Linked DNA regions of Homo sapiens. The protein of the gene in region 1 purifies or fractionates together with the protein of each later gene. This does not show direct contact. Each region holds a gene or a part of one and is shown in the gene's direction. Other genes may lie near its edges.

What was found.
Region 2: the proteins of C1orf162 (region 1) and CRNN purify together in Homo sapiens (affinity purification with mass spectrometry; 2 studies listed by BioGRID and IntAct, with this or other methods). This does not show direct contact.
Region 3: the proteins of C1orf162 (region 1) and KIAA1143 purify together in Homo sapiens (affinity purification with mass spectrometry; 2 studies listed by BioGRID and IntAct, with this or other methods). This does not show direct contact.

The regions. Positions count from the first base shown.
Region 1 is NC_000001.11:111,469,444-111,476,983, forward strand, and holds the start of C1orf162 (transmembrane protein C1orf162), read left to right. Parts: upstream 1-4,540; 5' UTR 4,541-4,587; intron 4,588-6,574; 5' UTR 6,575-6,577; coding exon of another isoform or gene 6,578-6,585; coding exon 6,586-6,622; intron 6,623-7,354; coding exon 7,355-7,424; intron 7,425-7,540.
Region 2 is NC_000001.11:152,407,772-152,412,008, reverse strand, and holds the end of CRNN (cornulin), read left to right. Parts: intron 1-1,065; coding exon 1,066-2,415; 3' UTR 2,416-2,766; downstream 2,767-4,237. UniProt on the Homo sapiens protein: Promotes cell proliferation, G1/S cell cycle progression and induces expression of the cell cycle regulator CCND1. Regulates proliferation induced by pro-inflammatory cytokine response via activation of NFKB1 and PI3K/AKT signaling pathways.
Region 3 is NC_000003.12:44,757,661-44,767,007, reverse strand, and holds the start of KIAA1143 (uncharacterized protein KIAA1143), read left to right. Parts: upstream 1-5,388; 5' UTR 5,389-5,405; coding exon 5,406-5,513; intron 5,514-9,347. Other genes in the region: kinesin-like protein KIF15, read right to left, coding at 5,124-5,142.

The DNA.
Region 1 (7,540 bases):
ATAGTAAGACCTGTCTTAAAAAAAAAAAAAAAAGAAAAGAAAAGATCTACCCAAAATCTCAGTAGCTCAATACAGAAAAGTTTACTTTTTGCTCATATAGAGTCTACTGGGGGTCCAAGTGACTCCCCAGAGAAACTGTCCTCCATATGTTGACTCAGTGATCCAGGGTTAGAACTCTTACCTTCACCTTCCCATCATAAAATCTCCATTGTTGTGGGAGGGGGTCAGAGCAGGTTTTGCATTAGCAATTAAATGCTTTGGCTAAATGAGACATGCATCACTTCATTCACTACCCATTGGCCAGAACTTGTCACATGACATTACCCAACCACAAGGGAGGCTCCACACAAGAAGGAGAGGAGAACTGGTTATTGGTGAGAACTAGTACTGTCTACCACACAAATCTAGATCTCTTTTGTGAGCCCCAGATCTGTGCATCCAACTGCTCTCTCAACATCTTTACCTAAATGTTCCACAGGCACCCCAAACCCAATGTGTCCAAAATTAAACTCATTATTTTTTCCCAATCCTATAACCCCTTATTTTATATTATCAACATTAGTTGATGGATACAACGCAGGAAACCTAGTTATTGCCACATCCCCTCTCTCTCTTACTTTCCTCTCACACCTAATAAATGACTAGACTCATCACCTATCTGCTCTACCTCTTCCCCATGGCCATTGCCGCTATTCAGATCATCCTAGTTTCTCACTTGGAACTCTGCAACACCAAAGGATTCTTCACCCACTGTCTGGCACCTCACCAGTCCCCCCTACACTCTGTTGCCTAAACCCAAATGTGCTTGTGTTAGTCCTCTTCAGCAGTCTTTCCATTGCCTATACGGGTAAAATATGTTTAGGGCCCGCCATTACCTGGTTTTATCTATCCTCTCCAGCCTTTCCTCTTCCATCACCCACCCTTATCCTATCCTCATTCCCCATAGCACCACCTATGGTGAAATACTTGCATTTCCCTAAACTCAACCATCGTGCCAAAGCATGCCCTTGTTTACCCTGTCCCTCTACCTGGAATACACTTCCTCCCTCGCTCTGCCTAGAAAATTATTCATCTTTCAAGGTGCAACTCAAACATTGTCTCCTCTATGAGGCTTTTCTTGACACCTATCCTCCCTCCTTATTGTGTAGCCTGACCTCTTTGTTCATTGCATCTCACTCTATCCTGTACGGATGTCTCACATCTACAATATTTCATTATGCTTATTTATGTGACTGGCCAGTCTGGAACATGCTTTTGTAGATGAATGAAGATATCTGTCTCTCTGCAACGGACAGATCCCGCAAGTCAAGAACTGTTGTCTTACTCATTATTGAACCTCCAGAGCTTGACAGGGTGTTTTCGTAGGTGCTAACTAAATGTCTGATTAATTAGTTAATCCTCCCTCTAAGTCTTGAAATACCGCTGTTTCCTTCTGTGGCTCCTCTTCCTCCTTCTTGCCCTTTGGTTGTATCTTTGATCATTGTCTAATCTTTTATCCCCCCTTGTTTTTGCTGCCACCTTCCTAAATATCTCCCAAATCCATATATATCTCTTCATCTCTAGTGCTACCATCCTAGTCCACATTACTATTACCCTCCTCAACTGTATCACTGCAGTAATCTCTCAGCCGGTCTATTCATATCTATTCTGGCTAACTTCCAATCTGTTTGCTCCAGTTTTAGTGATTGTTCCGTAATGCAAACCTGATCATGTCACCCTTGCTTAAATATCTTTAGTACAGATAAACCCACTTCTCTTAAAGACAAAAGTTGTGACGGACTGGCCCCTTCCTGCCTATTCAACCTCATCCTCATCATGCTCCACCCTCTGCCCACAACCCAGTGCCACCTCACATACTTCCTCTTTCAGCTTTTGTCAAACTAGTCTTTTTTTTTTTTGCCCTTCAACTTCCTACCTTCCTTCTGGCACAGGATTTTTAAATGTTCTGTTCCCTCTGAACTTTCCCTTCCTCTTGTTCTAGTGGAACTGCAACTCACATTTCAGATTTCAGCTTAAGTGTTGGGTCATTTTGTTATGTTTTTTGGCTCTAGGAAGGCTTCCCTGGTCCTCTTCCCCTCTGTTGTAGGCATCCATGGCACAGGGTCCTGATCCTTCACAGCACACTTAACAATCACAATTTACCATTTCTTTGTGTGGTAAGGGCCTCCTTTACTAGTCTGAAAGTTCCATGAAGGCAGCCCCTCACGCTCGTCATAATATCCTTAAAGCTTAGAATGGTACACAGCACATAGTAAATGTTCAATAAATGTTTTGGAGTAAGTGAATGAAGAAATGAATTATCTCAGCAACTGAGGTTCAAAAACTTGAAGTAATCATTGACTCATCCTACTGTTTTATTCCCAATATCCAGGTCCCAAGTTATATGTCCTCCAATTTTATGATCCCTGTGGTTTCAGCCTATACCCTTACTACACAATACCCAGAATATCACCGTACCATCTAGCTTCTTTGTCTCTACCCACAATTTATCTTATATGATATGGTACAATCTGTCATAAAGGCTATGTTTATCATGTTATATCTCAATCAAAAATATTTAGTGTTTATTTTTTAAATATTTCAAATATGTCTTGCTTGGACTTAAAGCTCCCCACCATCTGGCTGCAATCCATCTAAGTCAACTATTTTTCATCTCCCACCCTCTCCAAATGCCCCTCCCTATTTATTTATTTATTTATTTAAGCACTCTGTCACTCAGGCTAAAGTGCAATGGCATGATCGTGACTCACTGTAGCCTCAAACTCCTGGGCGCAAAGGATCCTCCTGCCTCAGCCCCCCAAAGTGCTGGATTACAGGCGTCAACCACCACACCCAGCCAAAATGTTCCACTCTTGAACTGTGCTAATATCCCAGAAATACATCACTTGAATTTCAGCAACCAACCCTGGGCCTAGGGCACCCCTCCCACAGCCCTTTCTCCCTCCATCCATCCAAAGCCTATCCACGCTCAAGGTTTACCTGAATACTTCCTTGCCTGATTTCTCCAGCTCTGCCAGCTGTGAGTTACTCTTCTCCACGTGGAAACCTCTTCCCCAGACTCTGTGCCTGGCTAGCTCCTTCTCATCTTCGAGTTCTCTAAGTGGAAATGTGCACTCCTTAGAGAAGCCTTCCCCAGTCCTCCATCTTCTCTGAAGACATTCTCCCAGTGTATTCTGTCTAGCTAGCACTCTTTTTTTTCCCTCAAGGCCCTTAATACAATGTGTCATTGACTTATCATTTACTTGTTTTTCATTTCTCTTCTCAATTATGTGGTAGAGTCTGTGAGGCAAGGAACTTTTCTGCCTTGCTCTCCGAAAAACCTGTAATAATCTGGTCAGTTATTAAACCTATATAACCTGGTCAGGCACAGTGGCTCACGTCTGTAATTCCAGCACTTTGCGAGGCCAAGGCAGGCGGATCACCTGAGGTCGGGAGTTCAAGACCATCCTGACCAATATGGTGAAACCCGTCTCTACTAAAAATACAAAATTAGCCGGGCATGGTGGCGCATGCCTGTAATCCCAGCTACTTGGGAGGCTGAGGCAGGAGAATTGCTTGAGACCAGGAGGTGGAGGTTGCAGTGAGCCAAGGTTGCAACATTGCACTCTAGCCTGGGCAACAAGCATGAAATTCTGCCTCAAAAAAAAAAAAAGAAAGAAAAAAAAAGAAAAAAAAAACCCTATAATACTAGCTCACTGTATGGCCTATAGCATTTACTTAATGAGTATATTTATTAATATTATTTTACAAATAAATATTTATAAAGAAATGATTCGCCTTCCCTTTGAAGGGATCTTAACACTCTTAACACATTTGAAGTCTGCACAGCTAGTACTTAACTCTTAGCACTGTTTGCTCTTCATTTTTCATTATCAGCCTCATCTCCCTGGTTAGAATAGATGAGATTATAAGGTTTTTGATGACAATGTCATACTGATGCGACCTCCACAGTAAATCTGGCACAGTGGTTAAAGTAAACACTTAATAAATATTTAATTAGCAAGAAACCTGTCTTGCCTCCTTATGTTCTGTCATTCATGTGTCAGACACAAAGAAAAGGTACAAAAGAAAGATTAAAAAATCATAATGTTGGGCTGGGCACGGTGACTCAGGCCTGTAATCCCAGCACTTTGGGAGGCCGAGGCGGGTGGATCACGAGGTCAGGAGATCAAGACCATCCTGGCTAACACGGTGAAACCCCGTCTCTATTAACAAAATACAAAAAATTAGCCGGGCGTGGTGGCGGGCGCCTGTATTCCCAGCTACTCGGGAAACTGAGGCAGGAGAATGGCGTGAACCCGGGAGGCAGAGCTTGCAGTGAGCCGAGATAGCGCCACTGCACTCCAGCCTGGGCCACAGAGCGAGACTCCGTCTCAAAAAATAAAATAAATCATAATGTTGACCTCAAAGAGGAAGCCTACCGTTGAGTTTAGTAAGATCTTTGCTACACACAATGTGATGCTGGCAGTGGCAGGGGCAGTAATCTTTATTTCGTCATTTTTGAAACATAGAAGCCGTAACGGAAGCAAGTGAAATGCTCAGTCTTAGACGACTGCGTCGTGCTATGACCGGACTTTTTCTTGAAAGGTAAATGCATTTACCACATGCTTTTAATCTAGATTAAATAATCACTCACCAAAAGAAAGTGTCGTCTAATTGTTAGTGGTTTCTATCACTTGTTTTCTTTGATGCAGGAAGGGTTGTATTTGAATGGTTCTATTAAGTTGATGGATTTTACGCTATCAGTAAGATTCTCCAGTGCTGGATGAAACGTGAAAAAGTATATATAGCACCGCTTCTATTTTAATTTATGCTTCTGCCAACTGTTTGGGTTGTGCTGAAAGGGAAATATATTTCCTGCTTTTCTTGGCCTGGATTTGTGAGTAGCTATTTCCCTGTGGTATTGTACGATGATTTTGTCCATTTATGTGAAAGTTAGGGTGGGGTGGCCTAATGTTTTCACAGCGGCTATGGTAACATTTTTGTAAATTCAGAACTGCTACTGTGAATTTCAGGATTTTACAGAAACCTATGATCCTATCTTCTTCCACCTCTCCAGTGGCAAAGCCTAGTGTAAGCTCATACTCTGTTTAGCACCAGCATATATTTCAATATTTTAAAAATATTATGTCAATATTTTATGATGGTCTGCAAAGAGCACCACTGACTTACAAGTTAGAAAAGGAGCAAAAAGTGTGAGAAAAATTACCACTGCCGATTCTGCTGCGGACTGTGGGCCTCCTATTCTCATGGCTCAGATTCCTCAACACATTTTCCCGTTGGCCCTTTTCTTATCTGACATTGCATGATCTAAAAATGTTTGGTGAATTGTAAGGTACTTGGTAATGTTGTTGTTGCTGCTATTGTAACAGGTACAGGGCGATGAGGTGTCCTTCTCCCAACCCTCCCACAGGTCCAAGGACTTGGAAGTTAACTTTTGAGAGCTGAACAATAAAACAATAAATAATTGATGACATTTGTTTAAAGAAATGACCTTAAAATATAGAAGAAATAACAAAGCCAAAACATTTTCCCATGAGTTTGCCTAAATACAAAGTAAAATTTTGGCCTCCTAAAAAAAAAAATCAGGGATGCATACAATGTTTTATGCACAAAAATATCTCTTTCATTGTTATTGATTTAAATAAAAATGGAAACAATTCTATCAGTAAGTGGGGAATTTGTTAAGCAAGTTATAGTACATAGCTATAATGGAAAGACCTATCACCACTAAAAAATGTTATAAAAAGTTTTTAGTGACATAGAAGAATGTGTATGGCAAAATGCTGAGTGTAAAAGGAAGATATAACCTCTTATAAAAAGAAATATCTCAAGTAGCTTTTTAAAAAATGCATGGAAGTCTGACTAAAAGGAAAGACACTAAAAACATTAATGAGTAGTAGGAGTTTGGGTGATTTCACTTTCCTGCCTTTAGATATTTTATACATTTTGATATAAAGCCTAAACAAGAATATTGGCAAACTTGAGAAGATAATACGTGAACAGATTAGAAGTGTCTAATGAGGTCTAGAGTAAGGGTCTCCAAGAGCAAGTTTGTCAAAGTTTATGTAGCAATGCCAGGGAAGAGTAAGATTGATACATCAGACCCAGTTGGCAGTCAATATAAAAATCATCCATTCATCTTCTCTCATACTTACTTCAGTTCAGTGCTTACCAAGCAAATTTATGATTTTCATTGGCATTCTTATATGTTCCCCTGATAGGCAAAATTCACTGATTGCACCAACATGTACCTAATGTTATTTCGGCTTATACATCAGTCTCCTGTGAGTTGGTTGGTGGGAATCAGTTCTGGAGAAATCAGTCATTTCTTGGTGCCCTGATAAGATCAAATTTCTGGACCTGCAAACCTGAAGGCTGGCTGCTGAGCTGCAGAAACAACACCAGAATTGTTAACCACTGATGAGTGATCTGTGACCACTGATGGCACTAGAACACCCACAAATTGCCTCTCATTGTTACTACTCTTATATGACAATCACAGTCTCAGAGCTGGCCCTTAAGCCGGCTCTCCCTTCCAAGCTTTCTAAGAGATACCTTGTTTTATTCTCAGGGGATGACAGCATGGGAGGCAATGGCTCCACATGTAAACCCGACACTGGTGAGTTTACGACAGGAATAATTACCTGCCTCACGTCTGAGTTAAAATAACTAGAAATTGTGCTGAAGGGCTGTAATGGAAAGGCACTAGCTAGTGCATTTCTGAAACTGGAAGAATCCAATTTTACCAGGACACAGAATTTAATGCCAGGAGGGGTGAAAGGGGGAACCACAGAGACCTGCCTGGCCCTCCAAATCTGAGTAAAGGGTGTCTCTGCTCAATATCAAACTAGGTGGGTCCTGCTCCCCTATTTGTGGTGTAGGCATTGGGAAAACCACTGTGGCTGTTTTTGGCTAGGCACTGCTAATAGCTGCTCTGCAAAAAGGGCAAACATAAAAGGGCAGCAGTTTCAAGGTCAAATTCCCCAAGGACTTTGGGAAGCATTTGTTGTTTCTCCCTAGCTGGGAGATGCTTTCCTTAGGCCAGAGGGAGCATATCTCTTCAGGAGTTCCTATTAAAATCTTTGAGGAGAGCAACATATGAGATTTTTTTTTTTAATCAAAGGAACACTAGGCTTGTATTTCATGTATGTAGTTGATTTTTAAGTTCTATTTTTCATTTAAAAGTACTTGGAATCTAAAAAACAATGTTCTCTCATTTTTGTAAGAGTTGCAGCCCCATCCTTAATTTCCACTGGTTGCTTGGGTAGAATGGGGCACCTGGGGAAACTTAAGCTGGAAGGGTATCATGAAAAGTGACAGATACACTAATTCCTTTTGTGTTTTCTTGTAGAAAGACAAGGCACTCTCTCCACAGCAGCCCCAACAACTAGCCCTGCACCCTGTCTCTCTAACCACCACAAGTAAATGAGCATTCTCCTATCTGTTTCATCTTGTACCACGTGGGATTTGATGTTGTGCTGACAGCCTCGGCTTGGGGATTTGGGCAGGGAGACTGGGGAGAAAGGACTAGAAACAG
Region 2 (4,237 bases), about 41 Mb from region 1:
GGAGGCAGCAGCTAAACCCAGGCCTGCCGGGACAGATGGCAGCTGTGCAGGCAGAAAAAAAGGTGAAAGAACCAGAGATGGTCATGGGAGTTGGCAAGTCCTGGCTCTTTAGATTAAAACCTTGGTTTTAATTAATTCTAACTTAAAGACAAGGTAAAAGGGCTCTAAAAGGACAACTCAGACAGGAGCAGAGCCTTGGAATATTTCAAAATGAAAATAATTGCTGCTTTCTGCCGCCTCTTAAATTTGATACAGTAAATATTTCCCACGTCTATCTGAAATGTAATCATCCATTCATAGACATTCATTAGAAGCATAGCTCTGGGCTTGCACGAAGCAGTTACTCAAAAATATTAGCAGACTGATCACATCAGAAATGAAATTTTGAAGAGCAGGTTGTTAATAGCTAGGGGGAGACTTTGGAGCCTCACCCCACCCCACCTGGCAAACCAGAACCAAGGCCTTGATGCACTTTCCTGTCTTTGGTTTGCATCTAAAGCAACCAGGATGATGATGGCCTTAGGGACAAGGACATATGGGCACAGAAGGATGCTGCATCCACATGCTCAGGGCAGCGCTGCAGGGGCCCACTGCTTCCCTCCCTCTTTATCATGGGGAAACATCTGGGCCTCAATGAGGAGCGCACAGAATTCCCATGGGGCTGTGTTCCCAACCTGCTGCTCTTTGTGCTGGGCCTGCTGAAGAGACTAAGGCCTCAGTGCCAGGGGCAAGGTGCCAAGGGCAGCCCAGACAGTCAACTTGAGAGCCCAAACAGTTGCATTGTGAATTCAATAATTTATTAACTCTTCAATAAATCTTTATCTAATTTTCCTGTAGCCCAGAAATTGTGCCAAATAGAGGCTACCAAACAAAAAATGCTCTCTACACTTGAGGGAGAGAGACGGGACTAAAAAAAAATAAAGGCAATTAAGTCTTGCTGCTGCTCTAGCCGTATGTGTGTGTAGTGTGGGGTCTGAGGCAGGGGAAGCTGGCAGCAGATTGGAAGGGACCTGCCCATGTCCTCCTCAGGGGAGGGATGCTGACTCCACCTCATCTTCTCCTCAGAAACCCCACGATCCAGCAACTGTGGATGAGGTCCTGCGTCTGCTGGATGAAGACCACACAGGGACTGTGGAATTCAAGGAATTCCTGGTCTTAGTGTTTAAAGTTGCCCAGGCCTGTTTCAAGACACTGAGCGAGAGTGCTGAGGGAGCCTGCGGCTCTCAAGAGTCTGGAAGCCTCCACTCTGGGGCCTCGCAGGAGCTGGGCGAAGGACAGAGAAGTGGCACTGAAGTGGGAAGGGCGGGGAAAGGGCAGCATTATGAGGGGAGCAGCCACAGACAGAGCCAGCAGGGTTCCAGAGGGCAGAACAGGCCTGGGGTTCAGACCCAGGGTCAGGCCACTGGCTCTGCGTGGGTCAGCAGCTATGACAGGCAAGCTGAGTCCCAGAGCCAGGAAAGAATAAGCCCGCAGATACAACTCTCTGGGCAGACAGAGCAGACCCAGAAAGCTGGAGAAGGCAAGAGGAATCAGACAACAGAGATGAGGCCAGAGAGACAGCCACAGACCAGGGAACAGGACAGAGCCCACCAGACAGGTGAGACTGTGACTGGATCTGGAACTCAGACCCAGGCAGGTGCCACCCAGACTGTGGAGCAGGACAGCAGCCACCAGACAGGAAGAACCAGCAAGCAGACACAGGAGGCCACCAATGACCAGAACAGAGGGACTGAGACCCACGGTCAAGGCAGGAGCCAGACCAGCCAGGCTGTGACAGGAGGACATGCTCAGATACAGGCAGGGACACACACCCAGACACCCACCCAGACCGTGGAGCAGGACAGCAGCCACCAGACAGGAAGCACCAGCACCCAGACACAGGAGTCCACCAATGGCCAGAACAGAGGGACTGAGATCCACGGTCAAGGCAGGAGCCAGACCAGCCAGGCTGTGACAGGAGGACACACTCAGATACAGGCAGGGTCACACACCGAGACTGTGGAGCAGGACAGAAGCCAAACTGTAAGCCACGGAGGGGCTAGAGAACAGGGACAGACCCAGACGCAGCCAGGCAGTGGTCAAAGATGGATGCAAGTGAGCAACCCTGAGGCAGGAGAGACAGTACCGGGAGGACAGGCCCAGACTGGGGCAAGCACTGAGTCAGGAAGGCAGGAGTGGAGCAGCACTCACCCAAGGCGCTGTGTGACAGAAGGGCAGGGAGACAGACAGCCCACAGTGGTTGGTGAGGAATGGGTTGATGACCACTCAAGGGAGACAGTGATCCTCAGGCTGGACCAGGGCAACTTGCATACCAGTGTTTCCTCAGCACAGGGCCAGGATGCAGCCCAGTCAGAAGAGAAGCGAGGCATCACAGCTAGAGAGCTGTATTCCTACTTGAGAAGCACCAAGCCATGACTTCCCCGACTCCAATGTCCAGTACTGGAAGAAGACAGCTGGAGAGAGTTTGGCTTGTCCTGCATGGCCAATCCAGTGGGTGCATCCCTGGACATCAGCTCTTCATTATGCAGCTTCCCTTTTAGGTCTTTCTCAATGAGATAATTTCTGCAAGGAGCTTTCTATCCTGAACTCTTCTTTCTTACCTGCTTTGCGGTGCAGACCCTCTCAGGAGCAGGAAGACTCAGAGCAAGTCACCCCTTTGTACTGAATTGTCCTCATCTTGTGGGGGGTTTCAGGACTATTTTTATCTCTGACATCTCTCTATTGCCCCATCTACCCTAATGCATCAATAAAACCTTAAGCCACTGGCCTCTGTGTCTCATTCAACCACCTTCTATTGATATTACAGGCCAAAGGCTGTAGAGTTATGAGATGATGAACTGGACATAGTCCCTACCTTTGAAGAGCAACTAGTTGAGAAAATATTATATGAGATTCCTGCTATATATCATACTTAATACTTGGCAGAGATGGACCAGCAAAGGTTTCATACAAAAGGCGCTTTCTTTATGATGGCCCTGAAAAGACAATTAGTATTTAGATAGATAGGCAAAATTCCTCTTGGTCTTTCACTACCTCTAATTCTATAGCGTTAAACCGCTATTCACCTGTAAGGTCACACAGGAAAGCTGATTTAAGATTACCAAGAAATGGAAGAAGGCCCCCAGTGGCTGTGTAGGGAAAGAGCGAGAAAGCTTGTGTTACCAGGTACTGAGCCAGGGGCCAGAATTTTGTGCTTCCCTTCCTACCTCCCCCTCAGTGTCAGCTCTGACCTCTCATGATGTCTCACCCACCAGATATAAACCATGTTATGGGGTAGAGACTATCAATTCTGGTTTATTTTAAGAGTGACCAGAAGAACAGTTTTAAAATAAAGATTTATAGGGACGGGCGTGGTGGCTCACACCTGTAATCCCTGCATTTTGGGAGGCCTAGGTGGGCGGATCACCTGAGGCCAGGAGTTCAAGACCAGCCTGGCCAACAAGGTGAAACCCCACCTCCACTAAAAATATAAAAATTAGCTGGGCATGGTGGCACATGCCTGTAATCCCAGTTACTCAGGAGGCTGAGGCAGGAGAATTGCTTGAACCCAGGAGGCAGAGGTTGTAGTGAGCCGAGATTGTGCCACTGCACTCCAGCCTGGGCAACAGAGCAAGACTCCATCTCAAAAAAAAAAAAATGTATAAACCTAACCCTACAGATGCTGGTTCTAAGGTTTGGAGCCAATTAATATTGTTTAGAAACTTCTTGGGGGTCTTGTGCTTTTGTCAGTACAGAAGACTAGATAATCTGAAAGATTTCCCAAGACAAAATAACTAGATCCTGCATAAAGCATTTTTTTCACTGTGTTACTGGTTTACAGGAAGTAAGGGAAATCGCTAAGGAAAAAACAAAATGTGGAATAAACAACAACCAAACAAAAACAACACGTAGGCTAAATAACAACCTCCAAAGACGTCCGGGACTTAATCTCAGAAACCTGTGAATATGTCACTTTATATGGCAAGAAAGGGACTTCACAGATGTGATTAAGTTAGGAATCTTGAGATGGTGGGGGGTTATTCTGGATTATCTGGGTGAGTCCAATATAATCACAAGGTTCCTTACAAGAGTGAGACAAGAGGATCAAAGTCAGTAAAAGGAAGTGTGGTGATGAAACCAGCGGCTGTAGCCATGTGCTATGAGCCAAAGAATGTGTGGAGAATAGAATCTGGAAATGCAAGACACTTTCCTCTAGAGCCTTCAGAAGTAACATAGCCCTTCTGCCACCTCAGTTTTA
Region 3 (9,347 bases), on another chromosome or scaffold:
AAACCCCGTCTCTACTAAAGATACAAAAAATTAGCCAGGCATGGTGGCAGGCGCCTGTAGTCCCAGCTACCCAGGAGGCTGAGGCAGGAGAATGGCGTGAACCCAGGAGGCGGAGCTTGCAGTGAGCCGAGATCACGCCACTGCACTCCAGCCTGGGAGACAGAGTGAGACTCCATCTCAAAAAAAAAAAAAAAAAAAAAGAAAGAAAGAAAAGAAAAGAAAATTAAAGCCTCTGGAAATGTTCCCAAAGACAAACAGCAAACCAAGAAACATCTGTTCAAGAACATTCATGAAAATTCATCAAGAAAGTTGATCCTGTGTTATTTGAAACAAGATTGCTGTCTCCCTCCCATCTCAGCAAGGCAAACACTCCACTGTAGATTGCAGCAGCCAAGAACACAGGGATCCCTCCAGCTCCTAATTGCAAGGGGTTCCTCCACAGAGTAGCAGGATGTCAGTGTATCATTGTGTCTCCAGCTAGCTACCTGATGCTCAGATAAAGTCCCAGACAAGTGTGGTTGAGAGGTGAGGGCTCTCCCTTCTCCCACACAGCCCTCATCTTGCAACTGCATGCTAAGAACACTGGGGCCCTGATCACCCTTGCCCCAACTCATTAGGCAGTGGTTCTGCACAAGGAAAGGAAAGTCTAGAAGGTGGGCTGCTACACTCCCCACCTTCCCCACAAAATGCTCAGCAACTACAAAGGGTATCACTCAGAGACAAGACTGCCATTATCCCCATCCCCAACTCAAGTCCCCAGGCTCTGAGATTTTGCCTAAAGGAAGAATCAGCCCATAAACAGATAACTCCTAATCTCTTCCCAAAGGAGCTGAATTCATTTGCAACAAAGCATAGAGAAGTTCAAACCTGTCTAGGTGTGGTGGCTCATGATGTAATCCCAGCACTTTGGGAGGCCGAGGCAGGTAGATCATTTGAGGTCAGGAGTTTGAGACCGGCCTGACCAACATGGTGAAACCCCGTCTCTCTACTAAAAATACAAAACAAAAATTAGCTGGGCATGGTGGCACATGCCTGTAATCTCAGCTACTTGGGAGGCTGAGGCAGGAGAATCGCTTGAACTCAGGAGGTGGAGGTTGCAGTGAGCTGAGTCCACGCCACTGTGGTACAGCCTAGGTGACAGAGCGAGACTCCGTCTGGGGGAGAGGGGGTGGAGAGAAGTTCAAACCTAAGGGCACTCTCAGGAACAGTGTAGGTTTTAGTGAAAGTAATTAGGAAGACATTCAAGATACAAGCTAAATTGCAGGCCTGTTCACTTGCAGAAGACAATGGGGATATAAGACAATTAGGAGTAGCTACACTGGAGTCACAAGAAATATGAAAGAAAACCTCAAAAACTACTCCTTCAATGGAGCAAGAATTGAAGTAGTTTGTAAGACAATTTATGCCCAGGGCATTGTTAAAAAACAATAGAGCAATCAGCTAACAATTACTGGAGTTTAACAGCTGTGTGCAGTCATAGAAAGAAAGAGATCCCTACCAAAACCACTGTCATCCCAGGATAAAGGTGGGCATATCCAAAGCTGGAGCTTTGGATTCCTGAGGAGCAATATCAAAGGCTTAACAGTATAGGAGGGAAATAGACTTCACTAAATTGATCCAGCCAGTTGCTAAGCAAATACACAAGCAAACAACAATAAGAAGCCCCAGAAGGTAGGCTGCCAGCTCTTCATTTCTGCAGAGATCTCTGTAACTGATCAGATGGAAAATGATTAGATGGATACTGATCTGCACTTATGTGCAACTTTCTGGTAAATCTAAAAGGAACCCAAAGTAAAATGTTTACTTGATAAAAAAAGAAGAAAAGTTAATAAGCAAATAGCGAGAGAAAGTGAAATTTAAAACTACACAAATGTAGATAGTTCTGGCATTATTTCTAATTGAGATCTAAGGAAACATCATTGAGAAGTGCTAGGATTTGAACGAAGGCATGCTAAATCCAGATCTCCTACTCTTAACCACCTCAATATGCTACCTCTTGATCAAAGGTTAAAGAGAGTATAAAAGTTTATCATGTGGCTGTCATAAAATTTTGACATTTAAAGGAAGTCTAGGCTGGGTGCAGTGGCTCACACCTGTGATCCCAACACTTTGGGAGACCAAGGTGGGTGGATCATTTGAGGTCAGGAGTTTGAGACCAGCCTTGCCAATATGGTGAAACCCTGCCTCTACTAAAAATATAAAAAATAGCCAGGCTTGGTGGTGGTTGCCTGTAGTCCCAGCTACTCAGGAGGCTGAGGCAGGAGTAATCACTTGAACAGAGATGGAGGTTGCAGTGAGCCAAGATCGCACCCCTGCACTTCAGCCTGGGTGACAGAGCAAGACTCTGTCTCAAAAAAGAAAAGAAAAAAATGAAGTCTATAGGCATTCACTGTAAAATTCTTTCAACTTTGAGGTCCTCTATGTGTCCATCTAAAAATATGCTTAAGTCTATTCTCAGTAGCTTTATTCATAACAGCCCTAACTATAATAAAAACCCAAATGTCAATCAACAGGAGAATAAACAAATCATGGTATACTCACATAATGGAACACTACACAGCAATGAAAAAGAACTGCTGCTACATACAATGATGGACAATGATCACAGACATAATGTTCAGTTGAAGAAACCAGAATAAAAAAAGAATACATACTGTACCATTTATATTAAGTTCAAGAATAGAAGCAAAACTAATCAGTGATAATAATAATCAGAGTAATGGTTGGGGATCAGGTAGTTATTGACTAGGAAGGGTCACAGGGAACTTTCTGGAGTACAGGAACAGTTCTATTTCTTGATCTGGATGGTGGTTACATTAGTGTATTTATATGTAAAAATTTGTTGAATAATATTAAGATTTGTGCCCTTAACTGCATGAAGCTATACCTCAACAAAACAGTAAGTCTTTTAAAGAGTCTTCCTGCTTTAAAACAGACCATTGGATGCTTTACTCTGCAGTCTAGATAAATACTCATCAGTCATTTGCCCAAACATGATTGGGTTCAGAAAGGGAATCTTAGGCCAGGTGCAGTGGCTCACGCCTGTAATCCTAGCACTTTGGGAGGCCAAGGCAGGTGGATTGCTTGAGTTCAGGAGTTCAAGACCAGCCTGGGCAACATGGTGAAACCCTGTCTCTACTAAAATACAAAAAATTAGCAGGGCATGGTGGTGCACGCCTGTAGTCCCAGCTACTTGGGAGGCTGAGGCACGAGTACTGCTTGAACCCAGGAGGTGGAGATTGCAGTGAGCCAAGATTGCGTCACTGCACTCCAGCCAGCCTGGGTGACAGAGCAACACTGTCTTTAAAAAAAAAAAGGGGGGAATCGTATATTTCACTTTTTCATTTCTCTGATTTCACAGTCAGCAACTCATGGTGTCAATGATGTCACTAGAGATAGCCTTCATGGGGCCGGGTGTGGTGGCTCATGCCTGTAATCCCAGCACTTTGGGAGGCCAAGGTGGGCAAATCACGAGGTCAGGAGATCGAGACCATCCTGGCCAACACAGTGAAACCCCGGCTTTACTAAAAATAAAAAAATTAGCTGGGCATGGTGGCGCGTGCCTGTAATCCCAGCTACTTGGGAGACTCAGGCAGGAGAATCTCTTGAACCCGGGAGGCGGAGGTTGCAGTGAGCCAATATCGCACCACTGCACTCCAGCCCGGCAATAGAGCAAGACTCTGTCTCAAAAATAAAAAAGAGAGAGAGAGATAGCCTTCGGGGCACAAAGTAAAAGTTGCAAAGACCACTGCACGGGCTCTCTTCTCCCATGTGTTCCCACTTCATGCTCCAGGCCTCTGGGCTGCTGGGAATGCAAGAAGCACTTTAACTGGGAAGTCATCAACCTCAATTTTGCCAACAAACTTAAAGGAGTGGAAAAGTTCCCCATGGCATCACCACCATCATAAAGGAGAGTGCTCCCACCACTTTAGAAAGGTTCTCAAATTTGGTTTTCAGACAAGAGCCCTCAGTCACATACATATATCTCATTAAATAAGCAGATGTTTTACTTATTTAACAGGCATCAAATTTTTTGCTTGAGTCCAGATTTAGTGACTGATCCATAAAGTGGAAACAAAGAACAAACAGTATGATTGTTCAGAAAGCAGGATGAACATTTCTCTCCAATAAGGTACCATTTTGTGAGCTCATAGTCCTTGAATACTGAAAATGATGAAAGGAAAAGGAATATTTTATATGCAAAAAGGTAGCATAAGGAGGTGTTCCGATTAGGTGTGATCGACCTAAAAGATTAATGAAACAACAAACCCATCAAAAACGACTACAATTGACAGAAAGCTAGAAACATTAACGGCGTTGGAAAGCTCAAATGACAGAAGTTCACAAATTCTTAATCATCTAATCCAGGCCTCTCCTCATTACCATTCAGACCACTCACAAAGATCCCATTAAATCAGCTCATAATCAGGTTTACAAAAATAAGACTCCTTAAGAGATGTGGCAATGTGAGAAGTGGAGCACGTACACAGGCACAGCAAATGACTACGTTAGTGAAAACTGTAGGGTTTATCATAAGCAAAATGACAGTGCTCTCCTCCGTGAAAAAGAGAAAGAAATCGGACGGGTCTCCTTTAAGTGAAAATAGAGACTGTGAGAACATAAAGACATTGCTGACATCTGTGTTTTAACATTCCATTTATTTAAGGAAAGAGGAGAAAGAAATGTTTGGAATATAAATAAACCCTTCCCTATAGGAAGGTCAGAAATGTAGAAATACGCAGAAGCTGGTGGGAGCAAAAGCCGATCCTGAGACAAGGATATCTAGAGAGGTAGCCCTGGTCGGGATGTGGGAAGAGGCCTGCGAAGAAACAGCAGAACCAAGGGAAAGAAAGGGAAGAACGTCAGGTCCACTGCTCATCCCGAGCGCCTAGAACTGCGCCAGACTCCTGGCATGCGCACAGGACACTGAAGGAAGGGATGAGCTTTTCGGCTAGCGTATTGTCTTTGAGCGACAGAGCGGGATTCCCAAACGTCCCCGCCGGTCACTCAGCTCCTGCAGTTCATGCCTAGCAAGAACCTTGCGGGCGGTCCGAGGCTGCCATCCTTTCACAGCTGTATTTGGGGGCAAAAATAGGGTAACGAAGCCGGGGGCCCAGACTTACTTTTGCAGCCGGGTGCCATAGCGCCCTCACCCCTCGATCCCGAAAACAATGCAGCCGGTGCCTCCACCTCCCGACTGCACCGCGCGCGACTGAATTCCGCCCGCTCAAGATGGCCGCAAATTTGAATTTGGCGCTTGGATCGGACGTTGACGCCCGCATGGAGGCCGCCATGTTGCCCGGCCTACGCATCGGGGGCGTGGCCCAGTGACGTCACAGCTAAGCGCCTCTGTATCGTCGCGAATCCGTCGCGGAACCTGTCTTCTGTCTTTACCCAGAGCTACCATGAGCAAGCGGAACCAGGTATCGTACGTGCGGCCAGCCGAGCCGGCGTTTCTGGCCCGCTTCAAGGAACGGGTCGGCTACAGGGAGGGACCCACCGTAGAGACTAAGGTGAGCCTTCGCCAGTCGTGTTTCTTCGGAAGCGCAGCCAGCCCGCCACTTTCAACTTTTGCCTCTACTTGGAGGGTGGGTGCTGTCGGGTCCCTCTTTTCACCCGCGCTCGAACCCAATTCCGGTGGAACTCGGACCCCCAGGCTGGTTCTTTTCAAGCGACCACAGCCCCCTACGCCCAGGAAGCTCTGTAGTTTTCAGAGCGCTGCTGTGTTCCTGAAAATGAACTGACGTGTAAACCACCTGGTCCTTGGTAGATGGTAAAGAAAGATCACTTTATTGTCTCTTCTTTCTCACTTGTTTACCTCAAAAGCTGTGAGTTCGCAGGGTGAGTTAGAGTTACAGCGTCGTCCCGTATTCCAGATAAGGACACAGGCCACTCGATCAAATGACCCCCGCCCCAACCATGTCCTAGGACTCGAGTCTGGAACGTCTTCGGAGGAATGTCCTGAATCTGTTTCTATGCTTTGTTAATTAAAAATAAATAAAAATAATATAGAGAAGGTCGGGCACAGTGGCTCACGCCTGTAATCCCAGTACTTTGGGAGGCCTAGGTGGGCGGATCACCTGAGGTCAGGAGTTCGAGACCAGCAGAGCCAATAGCCAATATGGTGAAACCCCCCGTCTCTGCTAAAAATACAAAAATTAGCCGGGCATGGTGGCACATGCCTGTAGTCCCAGCTACTCCGGAGGCTGAGACAGAATCGCTCGAACCCGGGAGGTGGACGTTGCAGTGAGTTGAGATGGCGCAGCTGCACTCCAGCCTGGACAACAGAGCGAGACTCCGTCTCAAAAAAAAAAAAAAAAAGCCGGGCCTGGTGGCTCACGCCTGTAATCCCAGCGCTCTGGGAGGCTGAGGCGGCAGATCACGAGGTCAGGAGATCGAGACCATCCTGGCTAAAACAGTGAAACCGCGTCTCTACTAAAAATACAAAAAATTAGCCAGGCATGGTGGCGGGCGCCTGTAGTCCCAGCTACTCGGGAGGCTGAGGCAGGAGAATGGCGTGAACCCAGGAGGAGGAGCTTGCAGTGAGCCGAGATCGCGCCACTGCACTCCAGACTGGGCGACAGAGCGAGACTCCGTCTCAAAAAAAAGAAAAAAAAGAAGAGTAAGCAGAAGCCGTAAATATCCTGGGTCTAAATAGAAGAAGAGGAGCTTCAGGAAAGAGCCACACCTGACTATTGTTGTCTAGGGCCGGAGGGATCAGTATTGAACACATGAATGACAAGAAAGCAAAACAGCTACATTGCTGATACAGAGAAAGTTTTAGTGGTCTGGATAGAAGAGCAAACCAGCCACAACATTCCCTTTAACCAAAGCCTAATCTAGAGCAAGGCCCTAACTCTTAAATCCTGTGAAGTCTGAGACATGTGAGAAAGCTGCAGAAGAAAAGTGTGAAGCTAACAGAGGTTGGTTCATGAGGTTTAAGGAAAGAAGCCATCTCCATAACATAAAAGTATGAGATGAAGAAGCAAATTATTCAGATCTAGCTAAGATAGTTGATGAAGGTGGCTACACTAAACAGGTTTTCAATGTAGATGAAACAGCCTTCTATTGGAAGAAGATGCCATCTAGGACTTTTTTTTTTTTTTTTTTTTTGAGATAGGGTCTCACTCTGTCGCCCAGGCTAGAGTGCAGTGGTGCAATCACAGCTCACTGCAGCCTTGACCTCCTGGGCTCAAGTGATCCTCCTGCCTCAGCCTCTCAAGCAGCTGGGACTACAGGCATGAACTAACGCATCTGGCTAATTTTTGTATTTTTTTGTAGAGACAGGATTCCACTGTGTTGCCAAGGCTGGTCTCAAACTCCTGGACTCAAGCAATCCTCCCACTTTAGCCTCTCAAAGCCTCTCAAAAACCACTATGCCTGGGCCATTTAGGACTTTCATAGCTAGAGAGAAGTCAGTGCCTGGCTTCATATTTTCAAAGGACAGGCTAACTCTCTCATTAGGAGCTAATGCAGCTGGTGACTTTTAAGTTGAAGCTAATACTTACCATTCCAAAAATCCTAGGGTCCGTAAGAATTATGCTAAATCTACTCTGCCTGTGCTCTAGAAATGGAAAAACAAAACCTTGATGACAGCACATCTCTTTATAATATGGTTTACTGAATTATTTTTAGCCCACTGTTGAGACCTACTGCTCAGAAAAAAAAAGATTCTTTCAATATATTATTGCTCATGGACAATACACTTGGTCACCCAAGAACTCTGATGGAGATCTACAAGGAGATTAACGTGGGGTTTTCATGCCTGCTAACACAACATCCATTCTGCAGCCCATGGATCAAGGAGTAATTTCTATTTTCAGTCTTATTATTTAAGAAATAACAGCCAGGCGCAATGGCTCACACTTGTAATCCCAGCACTTTGGGAAGTCAAGGCAGGTGGATTGCTTGAGCCCAGGAGTTCAAGACCAGCCTGGCCAACATGGTGAGACCCCATCTCTACAAAAAATACAAAATTTAGCCCAGTGTGGTGGCATGCACCTGTGGTCCCAGCTACTTGGGAGGCTGAGGTGGGAGGATTCCCTGACCCCAGGTAGGTTGAGGCTGCAGTCAGCCATGATTGCACCACTGCACTCGAGCCTGGGTAACAGAGCCAGACCCTGTCTCAAAAAAAAAAAAAAAAGTCAAAACCATTTGTAAGGCTACAGCTGCCATGGATAGTGATTCCTCTGATGCATCTGGATATTGTAAATTGAAAACTTTATGGAAAGGCTTCACCATTCTAAACACGTTAAGAACATCCATGATTCATGGGAAGAGGGCAAAATATCAACATTAACAGGAATTTGGAAGAGGTTGATTCCAACCTTCATGGATGACTTCGAGAGATTCAGGCCTTCAGTGGAGGAAGTAATTGCAGGTGTGGTAGAACAAGCAAAAGAACTAGAATTAGAAGTAGAGCCTGAAAATGTGACTAAGTTGTTGCAGTCTCATAAAAATTGAACAGATGAGTTGCTTCTTATTGATGAGCAAAAAAAGTGGTTTATTGAGATGGAATCTACTTCTGGTGAAGATGCTGTGAACATTGTTGAAATGTCAATAAAGGATTTAGAATAAACTTACTTGGTAAAGCAGCAGCAGGTTTAAGAGGACTGATTCCAATTTTGAAAGGAGTTCAGCTGTGGGTAAAATGCTATGAAACAGCATTGCAGCATCACAAAAGAGAAATCTTTTGTGAAAGGAAGACTCAATGCAGCAAACTTCATCGTCTTATTTTTAAAAATTGCCACAGCCACCCCGCCTTTCAGCAACCACCACCCTCATCAGTCAACATCCATCAGCATCAAGGGCAGACCCTTCACTGGCAAAAAGATTAGGACTCACTGAAGGCTCAGATGATTTTTAATGTTTTTAGCAATAAAGTATTTTTAAATTAAGGTAGGTACATCTTCCAGACTCCTGTTAATGTTGATATTTTGCCTCCTCCCATGAATCGTGTACTTAATGGGATCTAGATTTTTTTAGACATAATGATATTGCATACTTAATACTAACTGTAGTTAGTGTATAGTGTGAACATAACTTTTATGTGAACTGGGAAACCAGAAAATTTGTGTGACAATTTATTTTGATACTTGCTTTGTTGTGGTGGTCTGGAACCAAATCTGCGGTATCTTCAAGGTATGCCAGTAGAATGAGTATGTGCTAACCCCATGCACTGTCGCAGGCTCTGAAAGGACGAAGAGATGGATCTCCAAAATGCCATGTTCTTTAACACTTCCTGCCCTATTTTCACAAGTTACCATCTCTCCGAAACCCTTCAAAGCTCTCCAAACAGTTACTCTTTCTGTTTTTCTCTTTACCTTATCCATATCTTATCTATAACA